Regions from separate parts of the Homo sapiens genome. Here region 2 is linked to region 1. A link means that fine-mapping ties the variant in region 1 to the expression of a gene that starts in the linked region. Tissue or cell type: testis. Region 1 holds a variant in brackets; the other region holds the start of a gene. All regions are shown on one strand. Distances are from middle to middle.

What was found. PIP is the estimated chance that this variant, and not a neighbour inherited with it, causes the effect.
Region 2: it holds the start of TLN2, and the variant in region 1 is fine-mapped to the expression of TLN2 in testis (GTEx, PIP 0.92).

Annotation. Positions count from the first base shown.
Region 1 is chr15:62,685,781-62,695,813 of GRCh38, reverse strand. TLN2 (talin 2) reads right to left here. Exons shown (of 59, transcript NM_015059.3): 12 at 9,018-9,173; 13 at 2,873-2,974; 14 at 1,422-1,498. LOC105370855 (a long non-coding RNA gene) reads left to right here and starts at 7,789. Exons shown (of 5, transcript XR_007064673.1): 1 at 7,789-7,995. RefSeq lists an enhancer at 4,480-5,334. The variant C/T (reference allele first, on the strand shown) is at 4,883.
Region 2 is chr15:62,386,736-62,396,768 of GRCh38, reverse strand. It overlaps TLN2 (talin 2), which reads right to left and starts at 6,219. Exons shown (of 59, transcript NM_015059.3): 1 at 6,084-6,219. RefSeq lists enhancers at 5,197-5,811, 6,730-6,799 and silencers at 5,990-6,319, 6,367-6,563.

The DNA of each region.
Region 1 (10,033 bases):
AGCTCACTAATTTACATCCAATGGTCATGAATAATTCCAAAGACTTAAGGTGCTCTGCCCAAGGGTGGCAAGTACTAGAAACTTATCATATCAAGTTTGGTTCCAACTTGCGTACTAGTGGGGACAAATGGAAAAACACCTTTTGGGTGATTAGGAAGCAAATTGTGAGAAACTGGCAGCAAGGGTGAAAATATTAGAGAAACTACTACAGCTAAGCAAGTTTAATGGATTGGAAGATGCTAGAACTTTCTAGCAGCGTACTATGGGAAACATCGCAAGATCTGAATCTGAGTCCTGGCTCTACCACATATGTGTATCTCAACTAACTTTCATGAGCTTCAGTTTCCTTATCCGTGGACTGGGAAAGATAGATCCTGCCTGGGACCACTGTAGCCTCCTCCACTGCCCAGAGCATCACTGTGGGGTCTTATCAAGGCAAGCAGGAAGAATGGTCAGGATTGTCCCCATCGCTAGACCTTCCACTTCTTCCTGCGTTGCTCCTTGGCTGAGACCCCTGGCCTCCCTTTTGCATAGGGAGTTGTTATTGGAATTCCAGATGAGACAAAATGTCACACTAAAGCATACAAGAACAGTCATTACATTGCTCTATTAACATAAAAGGGATGTCTGGATAGGTTTCCCAAAAAGAGCCATTTATTAGATGTTACTTAATTTTAATAAACCTATCTCCTCATCTATAAATGGGGCTAAATTAAGAATACCATGAATTTAAAACAATGATCATGAGGATGATAGTTATAATAGCAAGTGCTATGTGCCAGGCATTGTTTTATGTGCTTTATTAGTAACTACCATGGAAATAAAACCTACTTAGGTGGTAATATCATTATCCCCATTTTATAGATAAGCTCATGCCAGAAGAGAATTTAGTAACTTTCCCAGGGCCACACAGTGAAACAGAGACCCCAGATTTGAGTCCATATTCTTAACCACTCGCCTGCACTATGCTACCTCACAGCACTCGAGACAAGCGTGGCATGCAGCAGTGCTTCACCGTAACTCCGCCACTGGCTGCACTCCCTCCTCCCACAAAAGGGGCCAGAATCAAACAGAGGCTCATCCTCTGACCTCCTGACGGTACGGCTCAATGATCATGATTCGATCATGAGATTTAAATCAGAAATGCAGAACAGGACTCATGAACACTTACTGCCTCAAAAGACGCAGTTAAAATGCCACACCTTGGTCAATGTTTCCCTAAAATCCTCAGCCTCCCTCACGAGACGTCTGCCACTTCAATGCTGCTGGTCTGGGGACCACGCTTGAAGAAGATTCAACTATATCATCTGCTGTCATCTTCTCCAGGTGACAGGCTTCAGAGCAGCAGGCTCCAAGCTGGCAAGAGGAAACCTACCTATCTAGGGAGAAGGTGGTCCTCTAGTACTCTTCATAATACTTACTTTTTTGGGGAAACGGACTCTTCTAACATGGTTGACTCCTCATCACCTTCTAGTCCAAATCGATCTTTACTTTGTTTCTGGAAATGCAATAAAACAAGATGCAAAAATGAAAACCAGGCCACGCGCGGTGGCTCACGCCTCTAATCCCAGCACTTTGGGAGGCTGAGACGGGCGGATCACTTGAGGTCAGGAGTTCGAGACAAACCTGGTCAACACAGTGAGACCCCGTCTCTAATAAAAAATATATATATACATAAATCAGCCTGGCATGGTGACAGGAGCCTGTAATCCCAGCTACACCGGAAGCTGAGGCAGGAGAATTGCTTGAACTGGGAGGCGGAGCCTGCAGTGAGCCGAGACAGCGCCACTGCACTCCAGCCTGGGCGACTGAGGGAGACTCTGTCTCAAAAAAAAAAAAAAAAAAAAAAAAAAAAAAAGAAAGAAAATCAGCAGGTCTTCATACAAGGACCTTTAAAAAAACATTTTGAAGGGACACAAGTCAAAGTGTTGAAGTTTACTCAAAATTCTTTATACTGGATATTTAGTAAGCGATGGATGAACAAAAGCATAATAATAAAAAAGAGAAATATATGATTTAATATATAGTTAGATGTCACGTATTTATTGCACAGACTTTAATTTTACATAGTAAAAAATCAAGATGCACATATTAACATTCTATTAAATCTTGGTTTTTTGAATGGGCTGTATCTTGAAGCCTTAAGAAATCTGTTTTTCTATATACCACTATGGCATATAACCCCATTACATTTGTTTAAAAAAAAAACATGAAAACTACAAAGATCATTTTTGGCCCCTCAATCCAAGTTCCCACAGAGGCTGAAAAGCACAGTACAGCTACGTGGAGAGGAAGATGCTGAGGGGTGCTAGGCTCATTCATTAGCTAAGTGACATGCTATTGTTCACTGCCTGGTAGTAAATGACACAAATATGTGCTGCAGAAAAAGCAGGAATTCTCAAAGGATCTTGAGGTCAAAGATCTCACACTTAATTAGTGATTAAAGATTAAATTAGTAAATCAAGTTTTGTTGTTTTTTTTTGAGATGGAATCTCGCTCTGTCACCCAGGCTGCAGTACAGTGGCGTGATCTCAGCTCACTGCAACCTCTGCCTCCCAGGTTCAAGCGATTCTCCTGCCTCCACCTCCCGAGTAACTGGGACTACAGGCGCCTGCCACCACGCCCGGCTAACTTTTTTGTATTTTTAGTAGAGACGGGGTTTTGCCATGTTGGCCAGACTGGTCTCTAATACCTGACCTCAGGTGATCTGCCTATCTCAGCCTCCCGAAGTGTTGGGATTACAGGCGTGAGCCACCATGCCTGGCCTCAAGTATTATTTAAGAGGATTTTTTTTTCAAGGTAGCCACGTCATCGAAACCAAGCCTTTTAATAAAGCCGTCTTGCTTTTCCAATTTGCATCAATACAAAATACCTTTTTCAGGATGATGTCAATGTAGCCTGCAATCAGCTGGGATATCTGCTCTCCCTCGGTGGTTTGTACTGAATAGTAGCTTTCCTGATACTCCCCAAAATCCTGAAAAGACAGCAATGGAGGAAATATAGCCAAATCAGATATATCAGCATTTTAAAGGCTAGCAGGTCCAGCTCTAGAACAATATGACATAGACTTCATTTTCCCTGCTCCTCCTCTCTAAATACAAATGAATATCCTAAAATTTATTCAACAATATTCAACAACGGTAAAAGAGCTCTGAAAACTGAGAAGACAGACTGGCTGGGGGGCTCAGAACTTGCAAAACCACAATGTGGTTGAGTTCTTGGGCTTCTTTCCTATCCCATATACCCCCAAGACTAAGAGTTGTAGAGGCCTGAACATTGGAACCTCCAGTAAGCAGTTCCTGAAAAGCATGCTTTTAGTCAAAGAACTAGGAGAAGGGGAGCCCAAGAGAGACTAATTTGGGGAACTAGTCAGGAGCTCCAACTCCAGCTCAACAACCTGGGCTGATATTCACAGGAAGCTGCAGAGCAGGGAAACCTCAGACCCTCCCAGGCCCTGTTCCACAACCCAGGCAGGTGGATGGTCTGACCCTTTTGCTGCAGCAGCCACAGTAAAGCCCTGTGTCTCCCTGCCCTCTAGCCAGTGGCTTAAAGAGACTCAGCTCCAGTGCCCTCTGCTTCCTGCAACGAAGGTCACCCAGCAATAGCAGGTAGCCCAGGGAAGTGCCTTCTGCCTTCATCGACAGAACCAACAGGGTTTGAGCAGGAACCTTAGTGTCAAAAGAAAAAATCAGTCCAGAATAGCAATGAAAGGGCTCAGAGAATAAAACTGTCATTGCAACTTAAGCCCTGAAAAGTAGGCCAGAATACTACACGCTAAACTTGAACAAAGTGGCCACCTGCTATAACAGAATATTTCAGTAAGATCAGAAGTCTCCCAATGGGCTGGGCACAGTGCTCATACCTGTGATCCCACCACTTTGGGAGGTTGAGGCGAGAGGATCACTTGTGCCCAGGAGTTCAAGACCAGCCTGGGCAACATGGTGAGACTTCACCTCTATAAATTTTTTTTTTTTTAATTAGCCAGGCATAGTGGCATGAGCCTGCAGTTCCAGCTCCTCAAGAGGCTGAGGGAGGAGGATCGCTTGAGCCCAGGAGGTGAGCTATGATCACACCACTACACTCCAGCTTGGGCAACAGAGTGAGAGACTGTCTCCAAAAAAAACAGGTCTCCTAATAACCAAGATGTCTAGGATGTCTTAAAAAAATAAATATTCATATCGAGAGCCAGGACACCCACAATATGAATGACAGATCATCAACTCATGCCAACACTGAAATAAATCAGATATTGGAATTATAAGGATTTTAAAGCAACCATCATAAAAATGCTTCACCAATAAATTGCAAATTCTCTTGCAGCAAATTTTAAAGAATAAAAAGTTCAAACAAAGAAACAGAAGTCATAAAAAAGAACCAAATGGAAATTACAGAACTGAAAAAGGCAATAACCAAAATTTTAAAACTCACAGGATAGACTAAATAGTAGTGTGGAGATAATAAAAAATAAAATCAGTAAACCTGAAAATAGATCAACAGAATTTAGTCAATCTGAACAATATAGAGAAAAGAAACTAAAAAACAGAGCTTCACGGACTTATAGGACAGTAACAAAAGATCTAACATTAATATCATCAGAGTAACAGGAGAGGACAGTGTTGGATAAAAATAGAGTAGCTGAAGAAATAATGACTGAAAACTTCCCCAAATTAGTGAAGACTTAAACCCACAAATTCAAGAAGCTGAGTGAACTCCAAATAGAAGAAATCTTAAGAAGCCCATACCCCTCCCCCTCCCCTCCCCCTCCCCCTCTCCCTCTCCCTCTCCCACGGTCTCCCTCCCCCTCTCTTTCCACGGTCTCCCTCTGATGCCGAGCCGAAGCTGGACTGTACTGCTGCCATCTCGGCTCACTGCAACCTCCCTG[C/T]CTGATTCTCCTGCCTCAGCCTGCCGAGTGCCTGCGATTGCAGGCGCGCACCGCCACGCCTGACTGGTTTTCGTATTTTTTTTGGTGGAGACGGGGTTTCGCTGTGTTGGCCGGGCTGGTCTCCAGCTCCTAACCGCGAGTGATCCGCCAGCCTCGGCCTCCCGAGGTGCCGGGATTGCAGACGGAGTCTGGTTCACTCAGTGCTCAATGGTGCCGAGGCTGGAGTGCAGTGGCGTGATCTCGGCTCGCTACAACATCCACCTCCCAGCTGCCCGCCTTGGCCTCCCAAAGTGCCGAGATTGCAGCCTCTGCCCGGCCGCCACCCCGTCTGGGAAGTAAGGAGCGTCTCTGCCTGGCCGCCCATCGTCTGGGATATGAGGAGCCCCTCTGCCTGGCTGCCCAGTCTGGAAAGTGAGGAGCATCTCTGCCCGGCCGCCATCCCATCTAGAAGTGAGGAGCGCCTCTTCCCGGCCGGCCGCCATCACATCTAGGAAGTGAGAAGCGTCTCTGCCCGGCCGCCCATCGTCTGAGATGTGGGGAGCGCCTCTGTCCCGCCGCCCCGTCTGGGAGGTGAGGAGCGCCTCTGCCCGGCCGCGACCCCGTCTGGGAGGTGAAGAGCGTCTCTGCCCGGCCGCCCCGTCTGAGAAGTGAGGAGCCCCTCCGCCCGGCAGCCGCCCTGTCTGAGAAGTGAGGAGCCTCTCCGCCCGGCAGCCACCCCGTCTGGGAAGTGAGGAGCGTCTCCGCCTGGCAGCCACCCCGTCCGGGAGGGAGGTGGGGGGGTCAGCCCCCTGCCTGGCCAGCCGCCCCGTCCGGGAGGGAGGTGGGGGGGGGTCAGCCCCCCGCCCGGCCGGCCGCCCCGTCCGGGAGGTGAGGGGCGCCTCTGCCCGGCCGCCCCTACTGGGAAGTGAGGAGCCCCTCTGCCCGGCCAGCCGCCCCGTCCGGGAGGGAGGTGGGGGGGTCGGCCAGCCGCCCCATCCGGGAGGGAGGTGGGGGGGGTCAGCCCCCCGCCTGGCCAGCTGCCCCGTCCGGGAGGGAGGAAGGGGGGTCAGCCAATAAAAAAAAAAAAAAAAAAAAAAAAAAAAAAAGAAGCCCATACCAAGAATTTTGAAAACTAGAGATAAAAATATCTTAAAAACAGCCACAGAAAAATGACATATTACCTACAAATTGACACCAACTTGAATGACAGCAAATTTATCATTAGAAACCATGGAGGTAAGAAAGAAGTGGCATGACACTTTTCAGATACTAAAAGAAAGGAACTGTCAATCCCAAATGCTGTACCTGGCAAAATTATCCTTCATGAATGAAGGGGAAATAATAACATTCTCAGAGGAAAAAAACACAAAGTCAATTTGTTGCTAGCAGATGTACCCTTAACAAATAGCTAAAGGAAGCTCTCCAAACACAAAATGATAACAGAAGAAGGCTGGGAACTTTAGAAAGGCAAGAAGAACAATGGGGTAGATAAAAATAAAGGGAAGTGTAATAGACGGTTCTTCACCTCATGAGTTTCTTTCATCACATTTTGTGTTCAAAGCAGAAGCTGTAACACCATCTTATGTGGTTATAGACAAAATAACCATCTTATGTGTATACTGAAAAAATATTTAAATAATTATACTCAAAAAGTGTGGGGAGTGGGTAGGTAAAAAGACCTAAATGGAAGTAAGGTTTCTACACTTAAGGGGGAAAAGCCATTACCAGTAGACTGTGTTTAATTTCATATGGACATGGTAATATCCAAAATAACCACTAAGAACACTACACAAAGTGATATGCTCAAAACGTAACACACAAAGCAAACAAACTCTAAAAAGGTGTCCAAGTAACCCACAGAAAAGGCAAAAAAAAAAAAAAAAAGAGAGAGAGAAATAAAGTGGACAAACAGAAAAACTACAAAATGATAGACTTGGGCCCTAACATATCAATAATTAGCTTAAATATAGTGTAAATATACCAATTAAAACTGAGATAGAATGGATTAAAAAAATATAACCCAACTAATTATGCTCTCTACAAGAATTCATTTCAAATATAACAGTATATGCAAGTTGAAAATAAAAGGATGGAAAAAGATGTATCATGCCCACATTAGTTTTATAAAAAGCATTGGTGGCTATGTCAACATTAGATACAGTAGACTTCAGAGAAAAACAAAAATTACTAACAGAAAATAACATTACATAAGGAAAAAACAACTTCTCTGTTAAGATAGAGGAATCTTAAATGTACAGGCATCAAACAACAAAGCTTCAAATTACATGAAACAAAAACTGAGAGCTGAAAGAAAAAGTAGAAAAATCCATAATTACTGTTAAGAACCTCACTCTCGGCAACTGAGAAAACTGCCAGGCAGAAAATTAACAAAGATATTCATTCAAAAGACTGGAACACCACCATCAACTAATAGGGATCTAACTGGTATTTATAGAGCCCACTTTACATGATAATAGCAGAATATATGTTCTTTTTGAATACTCGTAGAACACTCACCAAAAAGGATATCCTGGGATATAAAAACAAACCTTAAAATTTCAAAAGGACTGAAATCATACAGAGTATGTTCTCTGACCATAATGGAATCAAACTAAAAAATCAATAGTAGAAAGACAGCAGAAAAACCTCTAAACACTTGGAAATTAAATAAAGGCTAGGAGTAGGAAGGAAAAAATCACTACGTATAATGGGCTTTAATGTGACGTTATGCTTTAATCAAAATACTGTTATTCTCTCTTTTGCCTGAGGTAGTTAATGAGGTTATCATAACTATTCATTTTTTAAATAAATTTTTGTTTTCAATAAATACTTGGACCTAGTTTAAAAAGACCAATAGTATTACAAGATGTAAAACAAAACACAGTTGTTCCCTGTCCTACCCATTCCCAACTTCACTTTCTACCACATACCTCTCCAAAGGTAACCACTTTCAACTCTTTTAGCAGTTGCTTCTAGTATTTCTAAATAATATGTTTATATTGATTTCTTGATTTTTCTAATTTAGAAATCATCCATGACTTCCTGCAATGGAAGATGAGGACACAGCTAAGTATGAACATTCATCTTTTGAGGGCCACACAGGCACAAATGTTACAGCTACAAGAGGAAAGAAGGTATGTTTTCTGATGATTCCTTATAATTGGCAGGAACCTATCAATCTATAGTCAAATTAGATAACTAATGACTCTTTCCATGGCCCCTTCTTTACACAGTTTTTTTTCTGATGTCCTATTATGATATCTTGCATAGATAAGAGGTGATATTTCAAGCATTCACTAGAGACTTCAAGAGTCTTAAGAACTGACAAATTCTAGCACTTTTTGATTTTTCTTATTGCACATCTTGCCCTACCAACCACCCGCTCTATTGTGTTTCACATGTAAATGTGGCTATAGTTAAGGCATAGAGTTATACTCTGCTAACAACAAATGTTGAAATCAGGAGGAAGAATTCAGAGGTCTGAAGACCTGAAACAAACATATTCTCACTACTTTCCATAAATTTTATACTAAGCATCTTATCTTCATCTTATTCAATCCTAGCAGCTCTGTAGGTAGGACTATCACCATTTTATAGCTGAAGAAATTAAGGCTCAGAGAGGAAAGGTAACTTGAACAAGGTCACACAGCTGGGAAATGACAAACTGGATTTCTATAATAATACTATCCTAAAGTCCACGTTATTTCCACTGTGTACTATGCTCTCTTTCTAGGCAGGCTGGGAAAACATTCCTCAGCAAGATAATCACAATGCTTAGGACCATCTAAAACAGAGAGGGGGCCTTTGTGTCTCAGAGCACTAGAAAGTTTCCTTTCAGTATATGCTAGGGATGTCATCAGGAACACAGAACTGAGAATCATCTGGGTGAGTGGCTTTTTCTAGATAATGAACTAGAGGCTGACTTATGTAGAGTGCAGAGAAGCAGTAGTGCCTGAAGAAACCCAGGCTTGCTGACCTCTCTTTTACTTCTGGACCCATCCCCTTCCCTGCCCATGGGCTTGCACCATCTTCCTCACTCCACGCTGGCTCTCCCAGGCCAGAGAAACCCAATGGGCAAGAATCTGGTCTTTCTCCTGTCCCCACAATATCACTCAAGGCCACGCTAGTGCTCTCCTTGCCCTCTGCCAGTCCCTACCAGTGTGAAGCTCTTGGGTGAGGCTGCCCAGCGCTTGACGGTGGTGAGGGGCCACTCCTGCAGCACTTCCTTGGTCTTCTCATCCACGCGCATCACCGAGTCTTTGGTGATCCCCAGCAGGCGAGGCACCAGCTTGTTCTTGCCTTTCATCTTCTCCTGAAACAGGAGATACCAAGAGTCAGTGCTCTTCTTCTGAATACATCTGACTTTGCCAGGGAATCAGTGATTTTTTGACCTTTCACCTGCATACACTGTCTTTCAAAACAGGTAGGGCTATAGGGAAACCAAGATTTTGAGGCTAGGTGAATAACTCATTAAACTAAAGGCATGGGAACTCAAACAAAGACATGAGAAGACTGGAAAGAGCCACAAAATCATGCCCCCTGTTCAGGAGAGCAGCTTGCTCCAAAAACAGACGATGCCAGAAAGATGGGATAGAACTGAAAAGACATCCAGAGAAAAACAAGCAAAGGTGAATTCCAGGTACTATCACTCCCAGTGGCCAACTCAGTGAGTAACAAACAAGGGTTAATCTGAGATTTAAAATTAACTTAACTAAAACTCTGTCAAAGTAGAATCTTCTCATTATGAGGAGACACAGCTTCCTGCCCTTTTTTTTAAATCTCTGAAATATATTTCTGTTTGGATTCTTTGTTTTGGAATTTTGTATATCTACTGATTCTTAAAACTTATTTTATAACTAGTTTTAATAATGTTTTAAGATATAGTAATGTCTATTAAAATAATGGAACCCTAGCTCACACTCATACCAAAACAAATTAAAGACAGAGACAGATTAATAATTTAGGAAGAACATCCAAGTGGATATTTTTGTGATCCTTGGGTGACAAATGATTTCCTAAGAAAAACACCAACATAAGAAGCCATAAAGGAAACGATTAATATGCTTAACTCAAAATATACATACTTTTGATAGACCAGGGGGAGGAGAGCAGAAGCTAAAGAAACCTCATAAAAAATGAAAAAGACTGGGCAATAAATATTTACAATGAATG
Region 2 (10,033 bases), 300 kb after region 1:
CATGCCACTGCACTCCAGCTAGACCCTGTCTAAAAGTAAAAAAAAAAAAAGAAAGCCTTCTCAATTGGCCAGAAGCTCTCCCTGCACTGTTGGTCTTCCTTCAGTATGGGATCAGAGAAAGTTAAGATAAAGGAGAGTGCTTGTAAGAGCTTTCCTGAGCTCTTACTTTCACCACCTCCTGGGGCAGAGGGAAACAGTTTTTCTGAAGCTATCCTTTACACTGAAGGTATAATCTACTAAAAGTTGAGAAATCAAAGCTATCCTTTACACTGAAGGTATACTCTACTAAAAGTTGAGAAATCAAAGATTTTAGAAAATAATTAATTGAAAATTTCCAAAGAGATAAGAGATTACAATGAGAGGCATCAGAGAAAGTAAGCGTGATACTTCCCAGTCTTTTTTTCTAAATGGTTGCTGGTGAGTTTCTTATCCATTAACCAAATATTTTTTAACTTGTTTTCATATAGAAAAGCCTGCGTGTTTGAACAAGTCAACCAACTGAAGCGTACATGGAGAAAGTTAATTACCTCTCCCTCCTCACTGCTAATCTTAAACAATATTTAAGTTTTGGGTGTCCTTACACATCTTTCTCCAAGGTCATACACATAGGGCTTCTTTTTTAAAATCAGAAATAAGGCCAGGCACAGTGGCTCATGCCTGTAATCATAGCACTTTGGGAGGCCAAGGCGGGTGGATCACTTGGGTCAGAAGTTCGAGACCAGCCTGGCCAACATGGTGAAATCTGTCTCTACTAAAAACACAAAAATTAGCCAGGTGTGGTGGCGGGTGCCTGTAATTCCAGCTACTCGGGAAGCCTAGGCAGGAGAATCACTTGAACCCAGGAGACAGAGGTTGCAGTGAGCCCACATCAAGCCACTGCAGTCCAGTCTGTGCGACTGAGACACCATCTCAAAAAAATAAAAATAAAAATAAAAAATCAGAAATACGGTCATGCAACATACATATGATACTCTGCAACTAGCTTTTATTTTATGTATTATTTTTAATTATGTTATGCACTACCCTCACAAAATAATCCATACTATGGATGTACCTTATTTTATTCATTTTACTGATGAACATTTGTTGCTTCTGGTTTATTTACTGAAAAAAATCCTACAACAGACACCCTTACACACAGATTCTTACATGTCAATGTTTTTCCTAATGTAAAACAAGGCTGCAAATGTGGGATTGCTGGCTCACATGGCACGTGTGCTCCAAACTTTCACAGAAATGATCTGCTTTTCCAAAAGGTTGTAGCAATTCACACTTATATCAATGGTCTGAGAATTCCCACCCTGCCCCATCGAGCAGAGAGTATTACCAACCTTTTAAAAGATGTATCAATTGTATGGACAGGAAATAATATCTGTTTTTAAATTTGTATTTCTCTGTCCACTAGAGAAGGTGAGAAGAGACACAATAATTTGCATCCCTTGTTCTGGGAACTGCCTGCTCACATCCTTTTCTCATCTTTTTATAATGTTGTATTTCAGTTACTATTTCATCACATTCTCATCTCCCCACCCTCTACCCCACCCCCGCCCTGGCTACTAGATACACAAAGTACAAAAGAGTATCACCTCCTCGGAACACAATGTGTGGGCATTGTGAGGGCAGGGGATGTCTTCTCAGCATAAAGTACATGGTAAACCCTCAAAAACATACACTGAATGAGTGAATAACAGACGTAGGGAATTAAGTTTGTTAAAACTGCAGCTAAAAGAGTAAAAAGAAAATACAAATGTTCATTCCTTGTTCTACATTTTCAGAACAGCATCAGTTTGACTGAAATTAAATTGTTGATTAAGAGAAAAACAAAACCATGGTCTTGGCACCGTCTCTGAAACTCCACTGTGAAATGGGTGGCAAATGAGCCCAGTCCTAATTCATAGCTCTGGGTGACATATAAAGACTCTCACAACTAAAGCATTTTGTACCCAACCTTGTCCACCAGCTGTTATTCAAATGGCACCTGCCCCAAGCCAAAGATTGTCAGGGTGGTCAACACACAAGAGAGGTCTACCTTAAGCATGTTATCTTCCCCTCCTCCACCCTGACTTCTTTGCCTTTCTCCAGGTTATTGAGGAGGGGGTGTGGGCCCTGCAGGGGAAATTTGACAGAGTTCACATTCCCTAACTCTTTGAACTTTAGGCAAAACATCTGGTCATACCCACCATTTATCCCTATTATTTGTAATAGTTATGTGTGGCTTATGTTTTAACTAGTCTCCTTATTAGATATAAAAGTAATACGATTAAAAAGTTCTGGGGAAAGTACTGTAATTAAAAAGGCACCAGTGGGTATGTTAAGCTGTAATTCCAGGCCTGCTTATTATGTTTTCCTTCTTGTCTTTAAAATTTTTGTACCTAATAAAAATAACTGAATTATTTAGCTCTTTTTGAGTACTTCCTGTACTGGCCAACGACCACTCAAAATCATCAGGAAAACATTATGACTCAAAAGTTCTGGAGCAATAATGTCACAGATCACAAGTTGTAGAAACTGTCTCAAGAGTCTGGACATGCCACACACACATCACAACACCACTACACAGACTGGTAAACAGACAGGCAACTTTCCAAAACACATACTCGTTTTCTAACCTTTTGAAGTTACAAAATCTTAAAAGGAAAAAAATGCAAGAATTTTGGTCAAGCCATGAAGTTATGATGATTAAGAATCAGGTTGGCCAGGTGCGGTGTCTCATGCCTGTAATCCCAGCACTCTGGGAGGCCGAGGCGGGTGGATCACCTGAGGTCAGGAGTTCGAGACCAGCCTGGCCAACATGGTGAAACCCTGTCTCTACTAAAAATACAAAAATTAGCTGGGCATGGTGGTGCGTGCCTGCAGTCCCAGCTACTTGGAAGGCTGAGGTGACAGAGCAAGACTCCATCTCGGAAAAAAAAAAAAAAAGAATCAGGCAAGAGGCAACAAAGCACGATGTATAACAATTTGTTGAGAGAGGCATTAAAAAAAAGATAAATATTAAGGTAGTAAACTTGGGAATAAAGATTGGAGGGTTTGCAATAAAGCTTCTCTTTTTTATTATGTAAGGTTTAACATGTATAAAATATATGTGGCATATACATAGTTACAAAGCATAACGCTAAAATGCATAAATACCTATTTAGATGCATAGTTTTTTTCTGAGCATAGTTGGTAAAAATTTATATCATTCACCACCTGTAATCGTCCTTTACTGCTCTAGAGAACTAACGATGTTCTGGGAGTGAGGGGTGAAGGAGGGGAAATCAGGTTAATTTTGAGAGAGAAAAGACAGATATTGACTAGAAAATAACATACTCACCTCTTCCTAAACCCTAATTTCACTTAAAAATACTCTAGGGAACAGTGTTTGGAAAAACCTGAATGAGTCAGCAGTAGATGAGTTCAAAACACATATATAGCCTATGCCTGTACAGAATATCCCTAGTAACTCATTCAACAGGGTCAAGTTGTTAAAAGTTCGCTTTCTCTTTCGAGGTAGAAGCTCCACATCAATGCCAAAAAGAGAGACCCTCTAATACTCTTTGGAATCTCCCTGATAACTTAAATGGTTACAAAGGCAGAGAGAAACCAGTGGCTTCCCCAATATGAAGAGACCTGTTTCTGTGATTAAGGTGCTCCCTCTAAGACTGGAAACTTAAAACGGATTGAGGCTTTCTGCAACTGATTTCTCTTCTAAATTAGCTATGCTAATTTTGGAAAAATATATCTTGGGCTCTGGGTGTTTTCCACTATTCTAGTGCTCAATGAAAAAAAAAAGGCATTCGTGTAGGCATCCCTCTTCTCTCAAGACCACTTGTCACACCCACCGCCATCCTCTGATTTTGCATAGAGGTCCCAAATAAGCAATCAAGGTAGGTAAAATCTTGGCTGACATTCATATCGGAGTCACTTTTGCAGGCGCTTCATGAAATGAATCAGGGAAAGAGCTGCCTAACACCTAACATCTCCAGGCACATCTCCCACAGGAAAGCCTCTCCCCTCCCTCTGCACACCTAACCCCCAACCCCAGAGGTTTCTGTGGTCCCTTCTAGCCTCTTCAGTGAAGAAGACCGGAAGTGCCGACAAAACCTCAATACTATGACATCATTTCGGTAACACTCCAAGGAGAACACGTTCCTGCAATTGGCTGCCTGTAGGTTGGCAAACACGCCCGTGCCCTGTCCCATCACAAAGCAGAGGTCACAGTCTACTTCAAAAGTAAAGATTCCCCACTCCCGCTTCCCCCTCACTCCAGAGAGGTCGCTGCCTCCAAGCTCTGGAGAAGGGAGGTCAGCGTGCAACCTTACAATGCCACAGCTTAACACACCCAGGTATTATTAATGGAAAAGTAAGTGGTACTTACAGCACCAGGGCAATTTACGTGTATTTTGGGGACCACTTCTCCAAGACATCATCCCTACCCAACCGTCTTTAATTATGTCTTTGACAACGCCAACACTTCAGTTCATTCCTCTCTCATCTTCTGGAAAGAACCAGAAGTTTTCACTATGAGACACAGGAATTCTGGCCTAAGTTGTCCCAGCTCTTCAAGGACAGCAAGAATCCAAGTTTCCCCACGCGTCACCTGAAGCCCCAACTTCTGGAAACGCCCTCCTTTCCTCGCCTCTACGAGCTGCGAGAGCAGAACACGCAGCCGCGGGCGCTACTGCTGTCGCCGCTAAAGCCAAAGAGGCGACTGGAAGCTCAGGCTGTTCGGCGGCCTCGGGGCGACCACAGGCCAGGCCCTGGTCCTGATCCACGAACCAAGGCGCCTCCTCTCCCCCAGGAAGTGAGCTACTGCGCCCCTCGGAGCACCCAGGCGAGCCCGGGCACCGGGAGAACGCTCTACACTCGGCGCCCAGCCCCGGGACGCCGCCCAGCGCACGGCTCCGGCTGAGCACCCGGGCAGCGGTAGCTGCGGGGAAGAGGGGCGTGTTCCCTGAGCCTCGGAGCCCCAAGGCCGGGTCCAGGCGGGACAGAGGAAGGCGGCAAGCCCAGCACGCTGTCCGTGACGGCGGCTCTCGTTCCCAAGCCCCGCCGGCTGGCGTGGCGACGCGCTGTAGTCCGCGCGCCCTTGCGGGGACAGCAGTCGTGCGCGCCTTGTGCGGCCGCCTCCGCGCCTGCCTCGGCGCGCAAACTTTCCCGGCGACAACCGATCAGGCCTCTCCGACTGGGGCGCGGGGCTCTCCCCGGGACCCAGAAACTGCTCGCCCCCTCCCCTCCGCAGTCAAGACCCACTGAAAATATGGCGCCCTCGAAAGTCGTTCCTCGGTCCCCTCAGGGATCCCGAAATACTCGTCTCCAGGTCCCTCCAGCTTCCAATGGGCGCAAAATTTCAGCTCGTGGGACCGAGGAAGGAGAGGGAGCCGCTGAGTCTGTGTGAGGCCAGCCGCACTGGATGCAAAGCCTGGCCCCGCTCTCGGCCCGGCACTGCCCCCGTCGCTCAGCGGCCAGCAGTTCGCCCGTGGCGAGATTGCCAAGTAAAGGGCAGTCGTGGGATCGGCAGGTCTGAGTGTCCGGCACCGGAGAAGGAACTCCGCACTGGCGGGCTGTCTTAGCCCAGAGCCTCGGCGGGAGACTTGTTTGCAAAGTGGCGCTGGAGTCCCGGCGGCCAGTGCTGGAATGAAGCTGCTCCTCCAGCGCCAACTCTTCTGGCGCGGGGGCCCGGCTGGGGTCGAGGGGACACTCTATGCAGGCGGGGCCGCTTTTCAAAGCCCAGTTACCGGAAACCCAGCGAGAGCCCCGGAGGGGACCGGCTGCCCACGGCCAGGAATCCGCTCTCTGGCGCCGACTGCGAGGCTGTTTGCAAACCGCTGCGCCCGGGTCCGGTGCAGTGAAACATACATGTGCAATAGACAGGTGCATTAATTTCATTTTATTTTTATTTTCCTGCAAGAAGCCCTCCTAGACCATCAAATCTGGGAGCTTTACGGGTTTTTCCTGCATTGGCATCACTCACGAGAAGCAAAAGGGAGGAAAAAAAACCCCACATTTTCCTTCTGGAGAGGGGAGGGAAAAGACACGAGAAATTCATGCAACGTGCATGCAGCTGGAGGAAGAGGAAAACCCGAGTGAGCCGTGCGCCTTACCGGGGGATGCATTTACTGTCTCATTGCAGAGCGCCTGCCCGGGAGTGCAGCCCGCGTCCCCCCGCGCGCTGGGCGACCACTCCGCTCCCGCAGCCGCCTCAGCCGCTGCCGCCGCCGCTGGCTCCGGGCGCGGAACAAGAGCCGAGGGCGAGCGCGAGCGCACTGCCCGAGAGCGCTGGGAGGGCAGGAAGCGCGTCATCATTCGGGGACGGCGCGGCGCCGGTCCGGCCGCGGCGCCGCGCGGCACCGGGGTGGGCCGCCACCGAGGCTCAGGCGCCCGTCCTGGGTTTCCTCCCACGCGTGGTGATGCTGAAAGGGTCCGCGAGGGAAGGTGATGCACCGGCCGAGCTGTCACGGGGAAGGGAGGCTCGGGGTGACCCCGGCTTCCCAGAATTGGGGCTCTGCTGTGTAAAGGGGATGACTGCAGGACACAGCGTCTTGTAGGCTGGGGCCCCTAGGTCCGCAGAGTGCCCTCTCGGGACCTCTGGCCCGGTCCTGGGGGAAGCGAGCTGTGGCTAACTGGAGGGCCGTGGTGGGCGGTGGGGTCTTGCTGCGAAGCGGAGGGCCGTGACCCCAGGCGAGCCTGCTCCTTTCAGCACAAGGACCCTGAAACCTTGCTGGTCAGGTGTCACTTAGGTATTTAGAGAACGACTATAGGGATGAGTGGCGGTAGGGGCGTGCTGTGTTGATAAGAAGAAAATAATTCACTCCTGCTTGCCATGCCCTGAATAAAGTCAGTTATATACCTCTTACATTTACAGTCATTATTAGTAAATACTGTAAATACCATGGAACAATGTGAAGGTTATTCAAGGGGGTGAGGAGACAAAACACTATGTACCGTATGGTCCCGTTTTTAAAAACTGTGATTTATGGAGAAAGGCAGAAAAGACTGGATAGATAAACACCAATAAGTCTCTCAGTGATTGGTGGAATTGTGAGTAATTTTACTTTTTTATTTATCTGTAAGGGACACATTAGTAATTTAAAAAAACAAGAATTAGCCATGACCCCTTTACTCCTAGTACTTTGGGAGGCCAAAGCAGGAAGATCTCAAGCCCAAGGAGTTTAAGATCGGCCTGGGCAATATAGCGAGACCTTATCTCTACAAAAAAAATTAAAAATCAGCCGGGTGTGGGGGCGCATGCCTGTAGTCCCAGTTACTGGGGAGAATGGTGGGAGGATCGCTTGAGCCCGGGAGCTCGGGGGCTGCATGAGCGGTGATCCTACCACTGCACTCCAGCCTGGATGACAGAGCGGGACTCTGTCTCAAAAAAGAAAAAAAAAAGGAAAGACGACATTATTTCCATCCCAATACAGAATGGACCAGGAAATAGGTAGCAAATCTATTCAGTTACTCAAATGGAACTGCTGGCAACTTTTTAGTGTTTCTCAGAGAAAGAAACTGCTGTCACCATAAACCGGAGACTGAATTGATTTTGTAAATTGAAATTATTTTGAATAAGTCCGTTGGAACATTGGATAAGGCTGGACATTCTGTGAGAACAATACCCTGTCCTTAACCAGGCTGATGAACCGGACTGTATGTATCATAGCAGCAAAGATAACCTTAGGGTACAACTTTGTAACTTATTGCAGAATATAAACTGTAAAGCTAACAAAGTATACATTATCAATGCACAGTGAGAGAACCAATTACTTGGCAACTTGAGAAAGTCCTAAAAATTGCAGGGCACAATTTCTCATTGTACAGGTAAAGTATTTTTGTTCACCACGCCTTTTTAAACATTCACCAGTCTCACAGAATAACTAGTGGTGGCAACAAGCCACCTCAGGGGTTGATTAAAAAGTACATGTTTATTGATTTCTGTATGAGCCTGGTAATAAGCTCACTAAATTAATGCCACCTAAATTGTTCCTTGGTTTACTAACAAAGAATAACCATATTTTTATGGTCCAAATGCCAGGTTTACATAAGAGGCTCATCAAGAAGGAAAGGAAAAAATGGTTGCAACTTAAGTGATTTTCCCCTTCCACTTAGTCCTCCGTTCATAGGGCCCAATAGCTTCCTATCAAGCATCTCAAAATCTTTCTGACACCTGGATTTCAAGATTTTCCATTACTTAATGCATCCTCTTGAAAGTATCCCCACACTTTTCCACTACCCATCAGCGGGATGCCATTCAGTAATGGAAGCTACATTCCATGAGAGCAAGAACCTCATCTGTATCTCTGTGCCTGAAGGAGCCTGACACATAGTATTTAATAAGTACTCAATAAAAATCTGCTTTATGAAAATAGCCTTATTTGTTCACTACCTATCTTACTAGTTCCTGAGATATTTGAAAAGTTATCTATTCTATTAGAGTGTCAGCAAAATTCTGGGATGCTGAGATCCTGTAGAGTTATAGCCTTGGTTTGGTTCAGTTACTTTTCAAAGTTCCAGCTAAATCCTAAGGCATTCACAAGGGTGAGGTGCAGGTGTCTGAATATTTGGGCATTAATAAGCCAGATAGCACTATTCTGTGGCTTTCCAAGGTCAATTAAATTCTTTCCCCCAGTGAGAAAGAACATCAGCCTTAGAACTCAGCTTTAGTTCTAGCTTCAAACCAATTGGCTTTGGACACTTCTTAATTTTACAGCTCCTGGTTTTTCTAACCACTCTTAGGGCTCTAAAAACCATTTACTGTTTTTTTAGAGAAATCAACTAACCATTCTACGTCCTAGCATTATATTTTTCAAAAATTTCCCCAGTAGAAGTAAAAGCAATTTTACCAGTAACCTTTACTAACTTTTCTGAAATTGAGATGCCTCCCTAGACCTAAAAAAAGTTATTTCTAAATTTAGAGTCAGCTACTAGTAGTCGCTGTCTTTATTCAGAGTGATCATAGTTCATTGTAGACCAGCAAAAAAAAACTAAAAAAACAAAATCTAACTTTTTTTAACAAGATTACATTTTGGGGCTTCGTCTCTACCCAGCAGAGGAAAACAGGGTGGGAGATAAAACATTCCATCTAAGCAATTTCTCAAGCCTTACAGCCTCTTACTTCTGCCCAGCAGATCTTAAGTAGCAAAATAAATACACTTTGTATGAATAAAGAGTGGAACATTTGGGGAGGTAAGTCAAAGAGATAGCTTCCAAGTCACTTGTAATAAATATATCTGGAACGAAAAACCATTTTCTTCACAAGTCAGATTTGTAATTACCAAATTAGACATTGCTTGGTGCTAAAGAGCTGGATGCTGAGAGATTGCCCCTCTCCTCCCATTGCACTGAGCCTTAACCTCCTGAATTCCTGTTGAGCACTTGTAGGTATCTGGGGTGGCTTTGCTCAGCTTTCATAGCTGAGCAAACTCAACTGTGTCCATGTTGAAAAAATAAAAGAAATTCCACCAAATATTTTGTTATACTTTATTTATAAGAGAATATTTTGTGCCATAATAAAATATTTTAAAGGGCTCCCTTGATACAATACACCAACAGTTCATGATTTCCTCTCTTTCAAAAATGTTTGTATCCTTTCCTGAGAGCAAGGTAGGTAGGAACCACATTTTCTCAAAATTGTCCATCATTCAGAACCAGAGATGAAAAGAAGATACTTAGGCTTCTTTTGTAATTTGATATCTTTAGGTTTCTAGAAATCTCTCTACCTCTTTTCTGATAAGTTTTAGGAGAGTATATTAACCAAAAATTACAGGAGGAAATATTATCTGAGTTGTAGTACAGCATATAGTTCATAAGTTATTTTTAATTTATTTGAAAAGCAAATATTTGACATTTTGCAAAAATTAATATATTTTAGCTTTTTAGTTATCTCAAAGCATAGGACCTCATTTCATTTCTAACTATTCAGGATAGCATGACAGATACAGATTTAAATGTCCTATTTAAAAGAGGAAATTGGGCTGAGCATGATGGCTCATGCTTGCAATCCTAGCACTTTGAGAGGCCAAGATGGGAGGATTGCATGAGGCCAGGAGATCGAGAC